Homo sapiens: one gene and its partners. The protein of the gene in region 1 interacts with the protein of each later gene in a pairwise test. Each region holds a gene or a part of one and is shown in the gene's direction. Other genes may lie near its edges.

Region 1 (5,567 bases):
AACAGGTGAGTGTCCATGGTCCTCAGTGAATCAAATCCTGCAGATATAAGAAATTGGAATGGAATCAGAGAAACCAATTGGTCAAAGGCCTGCTTCTCTGGAATAAGATATGACAACTGCCACTCACTTCTGTGATCATAGGAGGTCCATGCCAAGAAAGTGACCTATTCAAAATTTTCAATATGCAATAAATATACAAAACCTTCAGTTGATACTCAGTTTCCTCCAAGAAGCCTATCCTGATCCAGTCTGTCCTGCTTGATTACCCTTCCCTGGGCTCCCTTACATTTTTATGGAGCTGTGGAGAAGCTAGAAGGCAGATAATTTAACAAGAATGAGGGCTACAGATGAAGCTGCCATGACAGTTAAGAAAGAAATGTCAGAGTGGAAGAGGACAAGCAGGGTACAGGTTGAGCATTCCAAATCTGAAATGTTCCAAAATCTGAGCTGTTTGAGCACCAGCATGATGCTCAAAGGAAATGCTCATTGGAGCATTTTGGATTTTGGATCTTTGGTTAGGGATGCCCAACTGGTATAATGCAAATATTCCAAAATCTGAAAAAAATCCAAAATTCAAAAATCTTCTGACCCCAAGCATTTCAGATAAGGGAAAATTAACCTGTATTTTCAACCGCCATTGGGAGACCTGAACAAGGTATAGGTCAAAAGGAAAGTTAGCTGATGAAGTAGAAATGAATGACAGTGGTGTGTGCTTCATAAGTGCTGGTTGTGGGAATGAATGAACTTGTAACAGATACTCCTATGCAAAGCAAGAAACTTCTGAAGAAATGGAACAAGGTGGAGAAGCCTCGGGAATGCCCAACATTCCGAGGCTTCTCAGGATTGCAGAAAGAGAGGGAACAAATCACAAGCAGAGGGTTGGCTTCTGGTGAGGCCATTTGGTCCTCAGAGACTTGAGAAAAGAGAGAGTAAGCAAGGTGGGCTACTTGGCCAAAGAGCTGAGAAGGGGGTGTGAATTTTCCTTATTGACATTTGTTTAACTTAGAGAAACTGGGAGCTAAATCTCAGCTAAAGTAGAAATGTCTTAAAGCTCAAGAGGAGAAGTGAAATTTTGCATTAAGATTAGTGAAGACTGAGCCAGGCTCCACTAAAGGAAGAGATATGATGTTCAGTAACTTAGAGCAGAGTTATGCAACTGGAGAATAGGAATCTGCTATTGTGCCTGTAGGTACATTTAGTATCAGGCAACTAACAGGTAATTCATAGTGCCTATAATAAAGATATTCATATAACAAAAAGTGTGAAGGTAGGCTATTTCAGGTTAGGTGCAATAGCTTAACCATGGTATCAAAGGTCTAGCCCCCTGCCCTCCTTCTAGTCCCCCTCCCTCACCCCCACCCCACTTTCTTAGCTCACTCTTTTTTCCCATTTCTCACTCCCATTTCCTTCCCTCACAATATTGGGCTTAATGCACTGTGGTTCTTAGAGTTTAGATGTCAACAGTAGAAAGACTCAGTGTGATCAAGGAATGTCACTGAAGTTATGGATGTCAGGGAACTTTAAGATGGATGTGTTGAATACATGCAGACACTGAAGACACCCTGGATGATAAACACTTTACATAAAGAAATGTATGTAGTGTAAATTATATTAAAATATACTCTTCATGCTTCTTAAATGTCTTTGAAAACTTGACTAGTTTACCAACAGAACACTAATAAATTAAATGCACATGTCTAAAAATTAAAAACTTTGTGTAAAATAATACTTTTCAGTTGGGTGCAGTGGCTCATGCTTGTAATCCCAGCACTTTGGGAGGCCGAGGTGAGTGGATCACGAGGTCAGGAGTTTGAGACCAGCCTGGCCAACACAGTGAAACCCTGTCTCTACTAAAAATACAAAAATTAGTTGGGCATGGTGGCACGTGCCTGTAGTCCCAGCTACTCGGGAGGCTGAGGCAGGAGAATTGCTTGAACCTGGGAGGCAGAGGTGGCAGTGAGCTGAAATCATGCCACTGCACTCCAGCCTGGGTGACAGAGCTAGACTCTGTCTCAAAAAAAAAAAAAAACAAAACAAAACTTTTCATCTTTGTAACTTTAGCTTACTTCCTTGTAAACCCCATAAAAATCAGTCCAAGTGCAATGAGTTGAGTTTCATTTGTTTTTCCCCAGAGTAGTATGTCCATCAGATGAATGTAGAACTAGCAGGGGCTAAGTCCTTCCATGTTCAGAAATTCTGTGAGAGATGTCAGAAGACCTGGTAAATAATAACCTTTTTTTCTTGTTCAGATTCAGAACCAATTGACAGGGATGCAGGAGTAAAATAGATGGTTCTGGAAACCTCAGTTTCTTACTGACAGAAGTTAGACTGGATAAAAACGGCTTAAAGGCAGAGCTAAATAGGCTTGTACTGGCAGAGGAGGAGTGTAGCAGATGTCCCTCTGCATAGGTCTTCTCAATGCAACTTGGGGCACCAAGGAGCATGGGATGTCTGCATCCTGCTCCTAAAGAGGACAGAGGGAGGAGTGTACCAAGGATACTCAGTTATTTCTCCCAGGCTCAACAGTTAGTTCCATCCTGAGGAGTGAGTGAGAGGTGGAGAGTGGCTAGAAATGTTTAATCTAGCCAAAGTCCTCCCCATGGAAACTTAAGAGAAATAAGTAAGTATCCCCCCACACCCACCCCAAGCCCCAAAAGATTTAAGCTTCAGCAGATTTATCATGTGTGAGAGAATATGATTGAGGATTTTTATAACATGTTCTTTTTTTCTTTCCCAGAGAGTGTGCACCCCAGATTCCTTGTAGTACTCCTATTGCTACTGAAAGGACAGTTGCACATTTGAACACTCTGAAGGACCGTCACCCAGGTGATTTGTGGGCCCGCATGCACATCTCATCCCTGGAATATGCTGCAGGAGACATTACCCGAAAAGGGAGAAAAAAAGACAAAGCTCGAGTGAGTGAACTGCTCCAAGGCCTCTCATTCTCTGGTGACTCAGATGTGGAAAAAGATAATGAGCCTGAGATCCAGCCTGCTCAAAAGAAGTTAAAGGTATCATGTTTCCCAGAAAAGAGTTGGACCAAAAGAGACATTAAACCCAATTTTCCAAGCTGGTCAGCACTGGATTCTGGACTTTTGAATCTCAAGAGCGAAAAGTTGAACCCAGTAGAGCTTTTTGAATTATTTTTTGATGATGAAACATTCAACTTAATTGTCAATGAAACCAATAATTATGCTTCTCAGAAAAATGTCAGCTTGGAAGTCACAGTTCAGGAAATGAGGTGTGTGTTTGGTGTCTTACTTTTGAGTGGATTTATGAGGCATCCTAGAAGGGAAATGTATTGGGAAGTCTCTGACACCGATCAGAACCTGGTTAGAGATGCAATCAGAAGGGACAGATTTGAATTGATTTTCTCAAACCTGCACTTTGCAGATAATGGCCACCTAGATCAAAAAGATAAGTTTACAAAGTTGAGACCTCTCATAAAACAAATGAATAAAAATTTCCTCTTGTATGCTCCCCTGGAAGAATACTATTGCTTTGATAAGTCAATGTGTGAATGCTTTGATAGTGACCAATTCCTGAATGGAAAGCCTATTAGAATTGGCTATAAAATTTGGTGTGGTACAACCACACAGGGTTATCTGGTTTGGTTTGAACCCTATCAAGAAGAATCAACTATGAAGGTAGATGAGGATCCTGATCTTGGGTTAGGTGGAAATCTAGTGATGAACTTCGCTGATGTTCTTTTAGAGAGAGGTCAGTATCCCTATCACCTGTGTTTTGATAGCTTCTTTACAAGTGTCAAATTGTTGTCAGCCTTGAAAAAGAAGGGGGTGAGGGCAACAGGAACAATTCGTGAGAACAGGACCGAAAAATGTCCCCTTATGAATGTAGAACATATGAAAAAAATGAAGAGAGGGTATTTTGATTTCCGAATAGAAGAAAACAATGAGATAATTTTGTGTCGTTGGTATGGGGATGGCATTATCAGTCTGTGCTCCAATGCTGTGGGCATAGAACCAGTCAATGAGGTAAGCTGTTGTGATGCTGATAACGAAGAAATCCCTCAGATAAGTCAACCATCCATAGTAAAAGTGTATGATGAATGCAAGGAAGGTGTAGCTAAAATGGATCAAATTATTTCGAAATACAGGGTGAGGATAAGAAGCAAGAAATGGTACTCAATTTTGGTGAGCTACATGATTGATGTAGCCATGAACAATGCATGGCAACTACACAGAGCCTGTAACCCAGGTGCTTCTCTAGACCCCTTGGATTTTCGGAGATTTGTTGCACATTTCTACTTGGAACACAATGCTCATCTGTCAGATTAGGGTACATAAAATGGACATAGTGCAGACATTAATAAGACATAGAAAAATAATAATTATACATGCTGTTGTACCCTCCCAAAGTAAATCTGATATATGTAATGAAGTTATTAAATAATACTTTTAAAAATCAGACATTTATATAGAGTTTCAAAGACTATTGTAACAAGTAATGTTAAAAATTGTCTGTGAGAATGTTGAACTGTAGTACCTTTCTCTATGTCAAGTTTTGTGTCAGACATGGGAAATCATGTATTTGTTCAATTGACTACTTTGTGCACTTATTTATTTATTTTTTGAGACACAGTCTCGCTCTGCGGCCAAGCTGGAGTGCAGTGGCACGATCTTGGCTCACTGCAACCTCTGACACCCTAGTTCAAGCGATTCTCCTGCCTCAGCCTCCCAAGTAGCTGGGATTACAGGCACGTGCTGCCATGCCTAGCTAATTTTTGTATTTTTAGTAGAGACAGGGTTTCACCATGTTGGCCAGGATGGTCTCGATCTGACCTCGTGATCTGCCTGCCTTGGCCTCCCAAAGTGCTGGGATTACAGGCGTGAGCCACCATGCCCAGCTATTTTGTGCATTTAAAGAAGGAAATCCTACCTCTTAAAAAAAATTATCTGGAGAATGCCATTTTTAAGATGCAAGCAATGTTACAGAAACCATAGAATGGTGCTGACTCAATAGTTCAAACTAGTGACACAGCCTATGAAGTAAGAATGATCTAAACAAAACATAGGTGGTAAGAGACTAAAAACCTTAGCATTGGTGTAAAACTGGATCGGATTGTGTGTAAGTGAGAAGGGTCAGGCATGGATATTGAAGGAGAGTGCTATAAAGGAAAAACCAGAGGTGAAGCAGTGCCTTTGAATATTGAAATGATAGGTGTATCCTATGGTGACTGTGTGAGTTGGCAGCAGAAGTCAGAAGAGTAAAGAAAACCAAGGAAACAGGCAAATCAGGGTAACAAGTAACCAGGAGAGTGAAGGAAAAGATAGGCATAAAGTCAACATAAAGGCCAAGTTGAAATCACCTGAGGAGATGTCTAGGCTTAAGGCCATCAGTGATAGGTAACTGAAGGAGAAACACTTGGAAAAGTGAATGATACGGACTGTGACTCCTTAGTGTTGAAGTCTAGCATTGGTGGATTAGTCTGGAGGGTAGAGAAGACAGGCTCCACCTCATTTCTGTGAGTTGTAGCCACAACAGCTCTTTGCCTTTCTTTCATATCCTAATATTTACAGTCCCTTTCCTGGCTGGAAGGCAGGTGG
Region 2 (8,274 bases), on another chromosome or scaffold:
ATCTTGGCTCACTGTAGCCTCCACCTGCCAGGTTCAAGCGATTCTGCTGCCTCGGCCTCCCAAGTAGCTGAGATTAGAGGTGCACACCACCACACCCAGCTAATTTCTGTATTGTAGTAGAGACGAGGTTTTGCCAGGCTGGTCTTGAACTCCTGACCTCAGGTGGTCCACCCACCTCGGCCTCCCAAAGTGCTGAGATTACAGGTGTGAGGCACTGTGCTAGGCCTCAGGCAGCCTTTTATTAGCACATAAAATGTACATGTTACCATCTGTTATCTTGGAATCAATGAAATAAGAGTAATATCAGAAGGAGGAATTGAATGACTAGTGAGAGTCCATTTGAGGAGAAATACAACTCTCAAGGAAAAAATCTTGTTGCTGAGATGACAATTAACATTGACATATCCGATGCAGTACAAAATGGCAAGTCTGTGTGCCATTGTAGTCCTTCCTACCTTGCTGAATAATCATTGTTACCTGCCTTCTTTCTTATAGCCTGTGTCAGCCATAATTGTTATTTTATTGCAAGATTTTTAAAGTTCATAATGTGGGGGGAAGCCAAACAGCACAGAAGAGTATATGGTTTGTTTGTTTGTTTGTTTGTTTGTTTGTTTTGAGATGGAGTCTTGCTCTGTCGCCCAGGCTGGAGTGCAGTTGCGTGATCTTGGCTCTCTGCAAGCTCTGCCTCCCGGGTTCACACCATTCTCCTGCCTCAGCCTCCCTAGTAGCTGGGACTACAGGCGCCCGCCACCATGCCCGGCTAATTTTTTTGTATTTTCTTGGTAGAGACAGGGTTTCACCGTGTTAGCCAGGATGGTCTCAATCTCCTGACCTCGTGAGCAGCCCACCTCGGCCTCCCAAATTGCTGGGATTACAGGCGTGAACCACTGCGCCCGGCTGAGTATATGGGGTTTTTTAGTAAGCTGCCTAAACAGGGAAAAGTCACCGTCCTTATGGAGCTTCTACTCTAGCTTTTATACTGAAATACCTTTTGGTCAGTAATCGTGTGTGTGTGTATGCATGTGTGCATTTTGAGGCTTTTATTTATAAAAGAAAACATAATATGCCTGGAAGCTAATAGGTGCTCATTTAAGTGTGTGATCTCTGGCTGCTTAGAAGGCCTATATAGGAAACTCAACCCTAATTAAAGAAAAAAGTTATGTGAAATTACATGAACACACTGGTGCAGGACCATGTAAATATTAGCAGCATGGTTAGGAGTGAGATTCTGTCTCAAAAAACAAAGAAAAAAAAAAGGCTGGGTGCGGTGGCTCACACCTGTAATCCTAGCACTTTGGGAGGCCAAGGTGGGCGAATCACCTGAGGTCAAGAGTTTGAGACCAGCCTGGTCAACATGGTGAAACCCCGTCTCTACTAAAAATACAAAAATTAGCCAGGCATGGTAGCACATACCTGTAATCCCAGCTACTCAGGAGGCTGAGGCAGAAGAACCACTTGAACCCAGGAGGCAGAGTTTACAGTGAGCTGAAATTGCATCACTGCACTCCAACCTGGGTGACAGAGCAAGACTCTGTCTCAAAAAAAAAAAAAAAAAAGAAGAAGATAAAGTATATGGGAAAGCACAAGACTTGGAATAGTTAAAATAACTTTGAAAAAGAAAAAAAGTGGCCGGGCGCAGTGGCTCATGCCTGTAATCCCAGCACTTTGGGAGGCCAAGGCGGGTGGATCATGAGGTCAGGAGATCGAGACCATCCTGGCTAACATGGTGAAACCCTGTCTCTACTAAAAATACAAAAAAAAAAAAAAAAAAAAAAATTAGCTGGGCATGGTGGCGGGCGCCTGTAGTCCCAGCTATTCGGGAGGCTGAGGCAGGAGAATGGCGTGAACCCGGGAGGTGGAGCTTGCGGTGAGCCGAGATCGCGCCACTGCGCTCCAGCCTGGGCAACTGAGCAAGACTCTGTCTCAAAAAAAAAAAAAAAAAAAAAAAAAGTGGGAGGAATAACTGCACCTGATGTTGTTACTCTGTAGCCGTGGTAACCCAATGTGGTATTGGCAGACACATAGATCAGTGGAACGGAATCGAGAACCCGGAAATAGACCTGCAAAGATATTCCTGACTGATTTTTTAAGGAGCAAAAGCTATTCAATGCAGGAAAGATAGCCTTTTCCAGATGGTGCAAGAACAATTGGCCATCTGTGGTGTAATAAAACCTACATTTCATCTTTTTTCTTTTTTTTTTTAGATGGAGTTTTGCTCTTTTGCCCAGGCTGGAGTGCAGTGGTGCGATCTCAACTCACTGCAGCCCCTGCCTTCCAGTTTCAAGCTGCCTCAGCCTCTCGAGCAGCTGCAATTACAGGCACCTGCCACCATGCCTGGCTAATTTTTGTATTTTTAGTAGAGCCAGGGTTTCACCATGTTGACCTCGTGATCCGCCCGCTGGCCTCCTAGAGTGCTGGGATTACAGGCATGAGCCACCGCGCCTGGCCCTTACATTTGATCTTTATCCCTGGTTCCTGGCACAGAGCTAAAAGCCTTGGAATTTTGTGAATAATAGGAATAGGGTTTGCAATTCATAAGGAGCCCGTTTCGACCACACCTGAGTTTATGCTAATGAGGTGACTCCAGTGGGACCCATAGATATCTTCAGGATGGGGATAGTCACCTTAAAGAAGGTATGGACCCTCTCTCTGCCCCACGATTGAGAGAGCTGGGTTGGTGAACACATCTGAGTGCTGGGAGGATGGCTCACCCAGACGGTACATGGATGCACTGCACCTTCAGTGCCCCTGACCAGACCTTAGCTGTGCATCTCTTCCATTTGGCAGTTCCTGAGTTATATCCATTAAAATAAACTGGAAAGACTGGGCATGGTGGCTCATGCCTGTAATCCCAGCACTTTGGGAGGCCATGGTGGGAGGATTGCTTGAGCCCGGGGGTCTGAGACCAGCCTTAGCATTATAGTGAGACCCCATCTCTTAAAAAAAAAAATTAGCTGGGTATGGTAGCGCACACCTGTAGTTCCAGCTACTCGGGAGGCTGAGGTGAGGATCACTTGAGCCTGGAAGGTCAAGGCTGCAGTGATTCATGATGGCACCACTGCACTCTAGCCTCAGTGACAGAGTGAGACCTTGTCTCAAAAAAAAAAAAAACATAGCTTTCAAAACTGAGCAATTTTTTTAAAAATTAGAAAATGGGCAAAAGATACGAACAGATACTTTAATGAAGAGGGTATACAAATGCCAAAAAAATCATTAAAGTGTGCTCAAACTTGTTAGCAATTAAGGGAAATGCAAATTGAAACCACAATGATATATCAGTACATACCTATCAGAATGGCCAAAATAAAAAATAGCAAAACACAAATGCTGATAAAAATGTGAAGTGGATTCACACATTCATTGGTGGTGGGAGTGTAAAATGGTCCAGCTACTCTGCATGAGAGTGTGGCAGCTTCTTACAACACTAATAAGCACGTGTTCATTGTGTGACCTAGAAACTGCACTCTTGGGCTTTTATCCCAGAAAAGTGAAAACTTACGTTCACAGAAAAATCTGTACACGAATGTTCATAGCAGCTTTATTTTTAATAGCAAAATACTTAAAACGATCCTAATATCTCTCAGTGGGAGAAGGTTTAAACTGCTATATACCATAGAATACTACTTCTCAATAAAATGGAATGAACTGTTGATACATACTACTTCAATGCCTCTCAAAGGAATTATGTTCAGTGAAAAAGCCAATCTGAAGAGGCCACATACTGTATGATCCCACTTATATGACACTGTGAAGGCAAAATTGTAGCAGTGGACTACTTAGATTAGCTGTTCCTGGGGTTATGGGTGGGGAGGGAGTGACTACCAAGAGGCAGCAGGAGGATTTTTGGGCAGTGGAGCTATTCTTTGTCCCGAGTTTGTTGGTGGATATGAGTTAAAATTCATAAAACTGAATACCAAAATGTGTGGTGTATGTAAATTTAAAATATATAAACTGTTCAGATATACATTTTAAAAATCAGTTCACACAAAAACGACCAAAATGGCATCCTCATAAGCGCCTCTATCTGGAAAACTGAAATGGGAAGCAGCTCCTGGCCCTATCCTGCCTTCCAGGGGGGCTACATTTATATGGGGCTTTGCCAAAGCCCTCACCCCAGCTGCCACTCACATTTCCCTCATTTCAGCAGCTCCTGAATCCCTGGGGTGGGTAATCTTTGAGTTCTATCCACTCCTTGAAACTGTAGAACCCATTTTAGCGCATCAGTGTCTCTGGGTCTCCACCTCTTGTCTCCCCAGTACTGGGTCTGCTGGTCCCTGTCTCTGTATCTCTGTCCAGATCTGTCTCAGCCTCGAGTGCTCCTTTTCTCTGGGTCTCTCTCTTTTCCTGAGCCTGAGCTGGTCTCTTTCTTTTCTTGAGCCCATGCTGGTCTTTCCCTTTCTTGATCCTGGGCTGGTCTCCCTCCTTTCTTAACCGTGAGCTGGTCTCTCCCTTTCCGTGTCCGACTCTGTACATCTCTGTTTCGGGGACCCCAGGGCGTCTTGGTCTGCCCCCGAGCGTCTGTGGGCCTTCATGCTTCTCTCCCTCCCGGTCTGCGCGTCTTTTTGTCTTTGTTTCTCCGTTTCTCACCGTCTTTGTTTCTCCGGGTCTCTGGCTGTCAGGGGTCTATTATTTACCCGCTTGTTTACTTCGTTGCCATGGTGCCCAAAATGACGCAGGCGCCGGAGTGGGCGGGACGCCGGGAGGCCACACTCGCGTCTGATTGGCCATGCGCACTGTCACCTGTCACGGCTCCCTTGCTCGCCCCGGTGCGCGGCACAGCCTCGCGGCATTGTGGGAGTCGTAGTCCGCGGTGAGGCCCAGTGCGCAGGCGCAGTTTGCCGGCCGCCATCGCGCACTGGGGCTCCGGGCGGCTGGGACCGGCCTGGGGTAGCTGCGCAGCAGGTGGGTCGGTCCCGGGGATGCAGCGCGGGGGTCAGAGAGCGACCCCAACAGGGTAGACGGTGAGGACGCCTCAGTGGGCAGCGTTAGGGAAAGGGGCCAGGGTGTTCCCGGGGTTGGGGTGCGAGCCCCCGCTGTGCGTCCAGGAGGCCGAGGGTCTGGCATCCCTTCGCGTGGAGTGCGGGGCAGGGGCCGGGTCCCCCCGGAGGTGGCTGAGATCCAGATCGGTGAGGGGCCCTGCAGGCAGGTAGGGAACTAGTGCAACCCCCACCCCGTGTAGGCTCGTGGAGGGGAGGCGCTTAGGGCACCCTGTGGGTGGGAGAACAGGAAGGGGCGGCTCCTGATGGGGGAGAGATGAGGGAGGGGGAGGCTCCTGATGGGGGAGAAAGGGGGGAGGGGAAGGCTCCTGAGGGGGGCGAAAAGGGGGAGGGGGAGGCTCCTGAGTGGGGAAGAGAAGGGAGGGGGAGGCTCCTGAAGGGAAGAGGAGGGGAGGAAGTGGGGGCTGAGGGTGTGAGGATGTGAGGGTGTCCGTGGTGGGGGGACGCTGGGCAGGCTGTGGCCCCAGGGGCTGGAGCAGGGAAGGGATGGAGGGTGCGGGGACCAAAGGGGTGCCTAGAATGGGCATTGTCTCTGCTGCCCCCACCCTTGGAATATCTCGCCTCTCCCCAGTCACCTGGGGGTGGGTTCTGTTTGAGTTAGGTGTCTGCGCCCACCCCGGAGACCTCTCTCGTGGAAGAGGCAAGAGTGGGTGTACTGGCTTCGGTCCTGACCCAGGGGGTTGGGGTGGGGGCCTGACTCACCCTCCCATCACTCCTTCCCCATTTCCTTTCTCTCACCCTCCTGGGCTCCTTCCTTTTCCCAATCCCCCTCTACCCCCGTCCAGACTATCTGGCTTTCCCTGCTCTTGCTCCTTCCTCTCCTGTCTTCTCTCTCCCTGCTACCTTCCCTCCCCGCTTCCCCCATTTCTGTCTGCCCTCCTTCCACTTTCCCATATATTCGCCTGTGTCCTTGCTGACTCCTGGGCGAGGCTGAGTGGCACAGTCACTTGGTTCCATGTCACCTCCTCGGTTCCATTTCACTTCCCCCATCCCATCATGTCCTGCGGATGGTTTCCTGCCCTGGAGTCAGAGCGGGACCACGTGTCGCATCGAGTTGCTGTTTTCTGTGCATGATGCTTGAATCTGTGACTTCCTGGGTATTTCTGGCCTCGGGTTTTCGGGGAGCCTAGGCCAGTTGCGCAGGACATCTCTCTGGTTCTGTCTGTCCTGGCGAGTGGATCAGGGACCACAAAAGGCAGCTGAGATGTGAACGACGACCCTTACTCCATGTTTTTTCATTCTTTTAAAAGCACTTTTACCCCTTTTTATAATGAGTAAGTGATCTGTGGATGAAGCCAGGGCAGACCCTGGGAATATCCGGCGACCCATCAACAACCACATCCCATGCATTGAGCTTCCCTGGCTGATCCTCAGGCCTGTGGCTGTGGGGTGGTTTGCTAGACCCTGCCGATGAGTGTGGTGGGATGGAGAGCTGCGATGAATATTCCTCAGGTGGCCAGGGCTGGGCCCACGGAGGGCCAAACCAGGCTTGAGCTCTGCTCAGCCCAGGATGAAGGGGATTTGCTGCAGGACTCTGGAGACCCACCAGGCTTGGGACCCCTCAGCTCAGCCACCCCTCACCCACCGTGGAGCTCTCTGCCTCAGCTTCTGTATTCCAGGCCTCTGGGTGCAGCAAAGCCTACAGGACTGGCTCAAGACTTGTGCAGATTGCTTCATTTGCTGAGGCTGGGGGGCTGGGCTCCAGGAAAATCCCATCTGAGGCAAATCCTGGACAGTCCCAAGATTAGGGGAGGGAGGTTTGCCCAGTGACCAAGCCAGACTCCAACGAGGTGTGGCCTCATTCAAGCAGGCTGTGGCAGGAAAGGGTCCCAGTGGTATCTCTATTTTGTTTGTTTGTGAGACACGGGCTCATTCTGTCGCCCAGGCTGGAGTGCAGTGGCCAATCACAGCCTCCAACTCCTGGGCTCAAGCAGTCCTCCTGCTTAAGACTCCCCAGGCTCTGAGATTATAGATGTACGCTGCCGCACCTGCCCCGGTGAGATCTCTGAGAGTCCTCTTGACAGTGTGGCCAGGAATGGGGCTGAAGGAGGCAAGAAGACACAGGGCCAGAGATTTCTGGAGGCTCTTGAGATGGCCTCATCCTCCTGGCTGTGAGCATCAGGGTCCCAGTAGGAAGGGAGATGAACAGGGAGAGGCTGTTTTCACAGGAGGCAGCAGCTTCCTTGGAGTTGGGCGTTTTAGGAGACCCCTGGTTCCATGGAAGCTTCTGCTTTGCAGGTGAATGGAGGAAGTGGAGGCAGAGGTGGCTTCCCAGAGAGGCTCACAACTTGTAATGCTGAGGGGGAAGGGCACAGAGGCGAGGAGCTCCCGTTCCTGTCCCCAGGGGCTGACATGTGTCCCCCACTGTCTTGGCCAGTGACCCAGCCGGAGGGTGTCCCGTCCTCCCCACGTCATCCCGCCCCTGCCAATGGCCGAGGACCCTTGCTCATTCTACCTAGACCCCGATGCCTCCACCATGCTCAGAGCTGGGAAGTTGGAGCAGGAGGAGAGGGGCTGGGGGAGCTGGCTGGGATCTGCCCACTGTGGAGGCCATGAGGGCTAGAGGGGAGGGCCGGCAGGAGGCCTCTTAAAGGGCAGGCTTATGGGCCTGGACGGGGAAGGATGAGTGGCAGCGTCACTTTGCAGGTGGGGTCCCAGCCTTAGTGATTGCCTGCCTCGTGCCTCTATTTCCCACTTGCACCTTGGGGCTGCATGTGGTTCCTACCCCTCTGGGATTGTGAGGTTCTGATGAGGGAAGGTTCTGTGCACACACATTATGGAGCTCACAGTTTGTTTTGTGGAGACAGGTTCTCTGCAAGGTGAACAAGCCTCTGGCGTCCTAAGAAAGCCAAAATTACATGCCTGCAGGACCACACCTCTGTCCATGCACCAAGTAGAGCTCTGTGCCTCCATTGCCAGGGGGTAGAGCTGGCGTCACGCCTCCCATCAGGAGAGGCTCCAGAACAGGGGTTAGCGTACCCACCTGCAGGCCAGCAGTGACCTGTTTTGTTTGTATTCATTAGAGACAGGATCTTGCTGTGTCGCTTATGCTGGAGTACAGTGGCACAAACATAGCTCACTGCAGCCTCCAACTCCTGGGATTAAGGGGTCCTCCCACATTAGCCTCCCATGTAGCTGGGACCACAGGTGTGTGCCACCACGCCTGGCTAATTTTTTTTTTTTTTTTTTTTTTTTTTTTTTGCGACAGGGTCTCACTCTGTTACCCAGGCTGCAATGTGGTGTTGTGATCACAGCTCACTGAAGCCTTGACCTCCTG
Region 3 (6,651 bases), on another chromosome or scaffold:
TTCCATTTTCACGATGTCCTTCTTCCTAGGCACTGCGAGGGGAGGAGAAAAGGGGCTTTGCAGAGGCCTGGGAGTATTCCCAGGAAGTGCCTGGTTGGCGAAACAACCAGGGAGCTGCTCCTGGGAGCTGGGCTGAGGCTTTGCTGGGCTGCCTCTCCCACTCACCCTTCTCCCGGCCCCCACCATGCCTTCCCCATGGGGGAGGGGCAGGGGGCTGGAGGAACACAGCTTCCCCCTGTTCTAGCAGAGAAATGCTGGCTGTATGCCTCCCCTAGGGTTCCCAGGCTGACTAGGGTGTGGCTGGCCTTCTGATGGAGCCCACTCATGCTGGGCCGCTGCCCAGGGGCTTTGTGGCACCTAGGTCGAGATGGTACTCAGGCCAGGGGTCAGGATTCCTGGGTGCTCTGGTCCCGGTGCCTCTGTCTCATCTTTAGGCTGGGATTCCTGCCACCTTGCTGCTCTGGGGCCCAAATACTTTGAGACAAGGCTATAGGCTTGTCCCACTGACTCTCCTTTCCCTCCCTGGGGTCTCCTCTCTCTCCAGAGATGCCCTGTATCCAAGCCCAATATGGGACACCAGCACCGAGTCCGGGACCCCGTGACCACCTGGCAAGCGACCCCCTGACCCCTGAGTTCATCAAGCCCACCATGGACCTGGCCAGCCCCGAGGCAGCCCCCGCTGCCCCCACTGCCCTGCCCAGCTTCAGCACCTTCATGGACGGCTACACAGGAGAGTTTGACACCTTCCTCTACCAGCTGCCAGGAACAGTCCAGCCATGCTCCTCAGCCTCCTCCTCGGCCTCCTCCACATCCTCGTCCTCAGCCACCTCCCCTGCCTCTGCCTCCTTCAAGTTCGAGGACTTCCAGGTGTACGGCTGCTACCCCGGCCCCCTGAGCGGCCCAGTGGATGAGGCCCTGTCCTCCAGTGGCTCTGACTACTATGGCAGCCCCTGCTCGGCCCCGTCGCCCTCCACGCCCAGCTTCCAGCCGCCCCAGCTCTCTCCCTGGGATGGCTCCTTCGGCCACTTCTCGCCCAGCCAGACTTACGAAGGCCTGCGGGCATGGACAGAGCAGCTGCCCAAAGCCTCTGGGCCCCCACAGCCTCCAGCCTTCTTTTCCTTCAGTCCTCCCACCGGCCCCAGCCCCAGCCTGGCCCAGAGCCCCCTGAAGTTGTTCCCCTCACAGGCCACCCACCAGCTGGGGGAGGGAGAGAGCTATTCCATGCCTACGGCCTTCCCAGGTTTGGCACCCACTTCTCCACACCTTGAGGGCTCGGGGATACTGGATACACCCGTGACCTCAACCAAGGCCCGGAGCGGGGCCCCAGGTGGAAGTGAAGGCCGCTGTGCTGTGTGTGGGGACAACGCTTCATGCCAGCATTATGGTGTCCGCACATGTGAGGGCTGCAAGGGCTTCTTCAAGGTACCGCGCAGCCCCAGGTGGGGCCTTTTGTTGGAAATGGAGAGAGGCTGGCCTCATCCCATTGGGACCTGTGGTCTCCCCCTGGGTTCTCCTCCTAGCTAAGTCCTGTCCTGCAGGGTGGGATCAGCCCTGCCAGGTGGGCCGCCTTCCTGGAGACCCGTAGATGCCAGGGCTGGAAGCTTTCATTTGCCGGGACACTCGGGCCCATGGGATTGCACAGAGCTGGAGGGAGGGGTGAGATAGGGGCAGATAGGAGCTGCAGGGGTGCCTGGCGAGCCTCTGGTTTTCCTCTGCTCCTCTGCCTGTCCTCTCCCAACTCAAGGTTCTAGTGGGAAGGGGTGCCCCCAGGCTCTCATGTTCCTGGCGTGAGATGAAAGGATCCCTGCGGAGGGTTTGGTTCTTGAGGGCTGGGGGTGGACTTGGGAACAGGCTGTGTGTTTGTCCCAGCGATGGTGCCTGCTTAGCTTCCCGTCCCCACCCCCCAGCCCCTTGGCCCTCTCCTGTCTGCCCTAGGGAGAAGGCAGGTGGACAAGGGCCCATGAAAAAATACAGGTGTCTAGACTGCCAGGGAGACCCTGGCCCCCAGTAGTGTGTCCTGGGGACTTCCTCAGAGCGAGAAACCTCCCCCAATGTCTTCAAGACTTTTCTCTCCCCCCGCCCAACCCCGTCTCTCCCTCCCTTGCCACCCAAATGTTAGAAAAATAGCTGTGAACAGAGAGCGCTTTTGTCTGCAATGGCAGCAGGATCTGGACGGTCCCCTCCCCTAAGTTCCCCCCTCCCCACCCCACACTCTGACAGCTTGTTCCGTGTTGCCCCCCCACCCAGCGCACAGTGCAGAAAAACGCCAAGTACATCTGCCTGGCTAACAAGGACTGCCCTGTGGACAAGAGGCGGCGAAACCGCTGCCAGTTCTGCCGCTTCCAGAAGTGCCTGGCGGTGGGCATGGTGAAGGAAGGTGTGTGGCTGGGGTGCGGCCCAGCGGGGCAAGGGTAGGCTTGAGTGGAGTGGGACCAGCAGGGCCCCCAGGCTTCTGCCCTGGAGGACCCAGAGGAGGGCACGTCTTATTTCCACCCCACCTCTGAACCCCAGGCCTTGGAGGGAGGCAGCCTACACCTGCCTGGATTGTGAGGGTGGTGGCAGGGGGAGGTTCCTATAGGGTACCTTGGATCTCAGGGACTCTGGGTCCTAGGGACTCGGTGGGGCGCGTCTCAGCAGTGGTGTGCACGGCTTGGGCTGAGAGGCCCTTCCTCAGATCCCTTCCTTCCTCACCCCTACCCATTCCTTTGCAGTTGTCCGAACAGACAGCCTGAAGGGGCGGCGGGGCCGGCTACCTTCAAAACCCAAGCAGCCCCCAGATGCCTCCCCTGCCAATCTCCTCACTTCCCTGGTCCGTGCACACCTGGACTCAGGGCCCAGCACTGCCAAACTGGACTACTCCAAGGTGAGGTCCCACCCCGTGTCTGCCTTGGGGAGGTCTATGAGCACATGCAGTGCCTTTGTGCGTGTTAGGAGAGCTACCCCCTCTGGAAGGACTGAATGAGAAAGGAGGTTTAAAAAAGAAAGAAAGAAAAGCGACTCCCTCCAGTTCGACAGATCAAAGAGAGGATCCCCCTCTCGGCTGACCAGATGGGAAAATGCACCCCCTCAGGCAGGTGGCCAATTAGAAAAATATGTCCTTTTGGCAGCTGCAGCCCTGGGTTAATATGTGAGACTTGGCAAGTGAGAGCCTGGGCAGGATCTCAGATCCACTCCCACTCCCGGGATCTGGCATCCAAGTGTCTGACACAGCCATACGTGGCAGTGGGTGTAGGAGCCTGCCTGGGGTGCTGACCCCACTGGACCGTCTTCCTAGTTCCAGGAGCTGGTGCTGCCCCACTTTGGGAAGGAAGATGCTGGGGATGTACAGCAGTTCTACGACCTGCTCTCCGGTTCTCTGGAGGTCATCCGCAAGTGGGCGGAGAAGATCCCTGGCTTTGCTGAGCTGTCACCGGCTGACCAGGACCTGTTGCTGGAGTCGGCCTTCCTGGAGCTCTTCATCCTCCGCCTGGCGTACAGGTGAGAGCCACTGACTGTCTGCCCAGCCCCTTTCCCTGATACACCTGCCTGTGAACCACCCTGATCGCTCTTCGTGCCCATCTGCCTGCCAGGTCTAAGCCAGGCGAGGGCAAGCTCATCTTCTGCTCAGGCCTGGTGCTACACCGGCTGCAGTGTGCCCGTGGCTTCGGGGACTGGATTGACAGTATCCTGGCCTTCTCAAGGTCCCTGCACAGCTTGCTTGTCGATGTCCCTGCCTTCGCCTGCCTCTCTGCCCTTGTCCTCATCACCGGTGAGTGACCAGCACCACACCAGGTCCAAGGGAATGGGCGTCAGGGGGTTGACTGGTTCTCAGGAGGGCACTGTCCCAGGGAGTTTGGTGGGCCGGGATCTAGCACTTTCTGGGCCCCTGCACTGCCCCGGGCTCATGCCAGCAGTAAAGTAGGGACCATAGGAATTGCAGATGGGCTCAGCTGCATCCAGCTCTAAAGCGCAAGACAGCCTTTGGTCCCAGACTGTCAGGATCCAGACTGCAGGTGTCATGTATGTGGCCTAGGGTATTGGCTTGTTTTTAAAACCTTCCTGTCAATTATGCTGCATATAGAAAAGTACACAAATGGTAAATTTTCATAAACCGCACTTACCCAACCAGCGCCTTGGTCAAGAAAGAGCACATAACTGCCCCCCAGAACCCATTATTGTGCCCCCTTCCAGTCATTTGCCCTCCCCAAGGGTAACCACTACTTTTTATTTAAATATTTTAAAAATAAGATGGGAATCTCACTATGTTGCCCGAGCTGGTCTCGAACTCCTGGGCTCAAATGATCCTCCTGTCTCAGCCTCCTAAAGTGCTGGGATTACAGGTGTGAGCCACCACGCCTAGCCCTTCACTGTGACTTCTGACAGTGCAGATCAGATTGGTTGTGCCTGTTTTGGACTTTATGTAAATGTAGTTCTGCAGGATGGAATCTGGTGTTGAATGCAGAGGTTTTCAGATTTCTCTGTTTTTTAAAGGAAAGAATCCACCCTCGTTCATTTTTTCACTTAAATTGCACAGGGGACCCAACGATATAGAACACAATCAGAGGTACTCTGGGCTGAGGGAGTGCTGAGTTCTGAGGCTGGGTTTCTCAGAACAGTCTAGATTTTAAAAACCCAATGATCTAGCCAGAAAACGTAGGTTAGGATTTTATTTCCCGTTTGTGACCCTGGGCAAGTCATTAGCCTCCTGGGCCTCGGGTTCTCACTTGGAGTATGAGGATAATGAGGGTTACTGCTTCTCAGACTTGTGACGATGCTTACTAATGGCCAACATGTGAATGCGCTTTTGTGAAGTGCCAGCAGAGCATGAGGGGTGGTCAGGGGCAGCAGTTTTAGGGGCCTGGGGGAGGCTGGGGCTTTGGGGGCCTGGTTCTCAGATGTACAGCTAATCCTGTACCCTTCCCGCAGACCGGCATGGGCTGCAGGAGCCGCGGCGGGTGGAGGAGCTGCAGAACCGCATCGCCAGCTGCCTGAAGGAGCACGTGGCAGCTGTGGCGGGCGAGCCCCAGCCAGCCAGCTGCCTGTCACGTCTGTTGGGCAAACTGCCCGAGCTGCGGACCCTGTGCACCCAGGGCCTGCAGCGCATCTTCTACCTCAAGCTGGAGGACTTGGTGCCCCCTCCACCCATCATTGACAAGATCTTCATGGACACGCTGCCCTTCTGACCCCTGCCTGGGAACACGTGTGCACATGCGCACTCTCATATGCCACCCCATGTGCCTTTAGTCCACGGACCCCCAGAGCACCCCCAAGCCTGGGCTTGAGCTGCAGAATGACTCCACCTTCTCACCTGCTCCAGGAGGTTTGCAGGGAGCTCAAGCCCTTGGGGAGGGGGATGCCTTCATGGGGGTGACCCCACGATTTGTCTTATCCCCCCCAGCCTGGCCCCGGCCTTTATGTTTTTTGTAAGATAAACCGTTTTTAACACATAGCGCCGTGCTGTAAATAAGCCCAGTGCTGCTGTAAATACAGGAAGAAAGAGCTTGAGGTGGGAGCGGGGCTGGGAGGAAGGGATGGGCCCCGCCTTCCTGGGCAGCCTTTCCAGCCTCCTGCTGGCTCTCTCTTCCTACCCTCCTTCCACATGTACATAAACTGTCACTCTAGGAAGAAGACAAATGACAGATTCTGACATTTATATTTGTGTATTTTCCTGGATTTATAGTATGTGACTTTTCTGATTAATATATTTAATATATTGAATAAAAAATAGACATGTAGTTGGAACTGAGATTCAGTCTGTCTCTGATGCCCCCTCCCCACTCCCCCACCAGACACACCCCATCATTACATAAGAGATGGGCTGCTCAAGATGAAACTTGGATGTTACCAGCCTGAGCTGTCAGGCCTCAGTGTACTCATTTGTAAAAGGCGGATAATAATGACACCTGCTTCACGAGGTTGTTATGCAAAGCACTTAGACTAATTTCTAACACGTGGGAAGCCTGCATTAGCTGTGCCTGGCTAGCTGTGCCTGGCTCATTGCTGGGGTCTGCAGTGGCTGACTAGCCCAGGGGTCACTGCAGGGCCCTAGCAATAGACTTAGCCGCAGATCTCAGGGTTGTCATGTTTCCTAAACTGGACATATATTCTCTGATTCTTGATTTCCACATCCATAAAACAAGAATAGACCCAGCCTCACAGAGCTTTTACGGTCAGAGGAGTGTGTGTGTAATGCTTAGCATGGGCTGGGTTTAAGTAAGCCCAAATTGGTAGTAGCTGTTACATTCAGGGTTTTAACATCCCCATTCTCAACATTCCTCCCCACTCTCCTGCCACCCCAGCAAGAAGATCCAGGGATCTGGCGGCCCTCACCTTCTCGGCAAGAAGATTGTACTGAAGTCCCTACCTGTGCCCGTGTCCCCACGTAGGCCCTCCAACCCCCTAGGCTCGTCAGTTGTTTAGTCAGCTGGCTTAAAATGCAGATTCCTGGGATCTACCCCCAGAGACTCAGATCTGGGGAGGTGAGGGGGCCCCAAACCTTCAGTTCTAGCAAGTACCCAGGTGCTTGTGATGCAGGTGGCCTGGGGCCACCCTTCTGAGAAACATGTGGATGGACCTAACCTGAGGCCCATGGGAGTTGGTCATCATGCAGGGTCTGGCACCTTCCTGTGCTCGGTGCTCACCCAGCCTCACTGTTTGCTTCTCTAGGACCCA

What was found. The genes of interacting proteins can lie anywhere in the genome.
Region 2: the proteins of PGBD1 (region 1) and ZSCAN18 interact in binary tests that used the Homo sapiens proteins (3 or more experiments, as listed by UniProt).
Region 3: the proteins of PGBD1 (region 1) and NR4A1 interact in binary tests that used the Homo sapiens proteins (3 or more experiments, as listed by UniProt).

What each region holds. Positions count from the first base shown.
Region 1 is NC_000006.12:28,297,987-28,303,553, forward strand, and holds the end of PGBD1 (piggyBac transposable element-derived protein 1), read left to right. Parts: coding exon 1-5; intron 6-2,737; coding exon 2,738-4,298; 3' UTR 4,299-4,563; downstream 4,564-5,567.
Region 2 is NC_000019.10:58,094,802-58,103,075, reverse strand, and holds the start of ZSCAN18 (zinc finger and SCAN domain-containing protein 18), read left to right. Parts: upstream 1-4,844; 5' UTR 4,845-4,902; exon of another isoform or gene 4,903-5,146; intron 5,147-8,274. UniProt on the Homo sapiens protein: May be involved in transcriptional regulation.
Region 3 is NC_000012.12:52,053,783-52,060,433, forward strand, and holds the end of NR4A1 (nuclear receptor subfamily 4immunitygroup A member 1), read left to right. Parts: intron 1-544; coding exon of another isoform or gene 545-546; coding exon 547-1,422; intron 1,423-2,247; coding exon 2,248-2,377; intron 2,378-2,711; coding exon 2,712-2,863; intron 2,864-3,274; coding exon 3,275-3,477; intron 3,478-3,569; coding exon 3,570-3,748; intron 3,749-4,905; coding exon 4,906-5,162; 3' UTR 5,163-5,721; downstream 5,722-6,651. UniProt on the Homo sapiens protein: Orphan nuclear receptor. Binds the NGFI-B response element (NBRE) 5'-AAAGGTCA-3'. Binds 9-cis-retinoic acid outside of its ligand-binding (NR LBD) domain.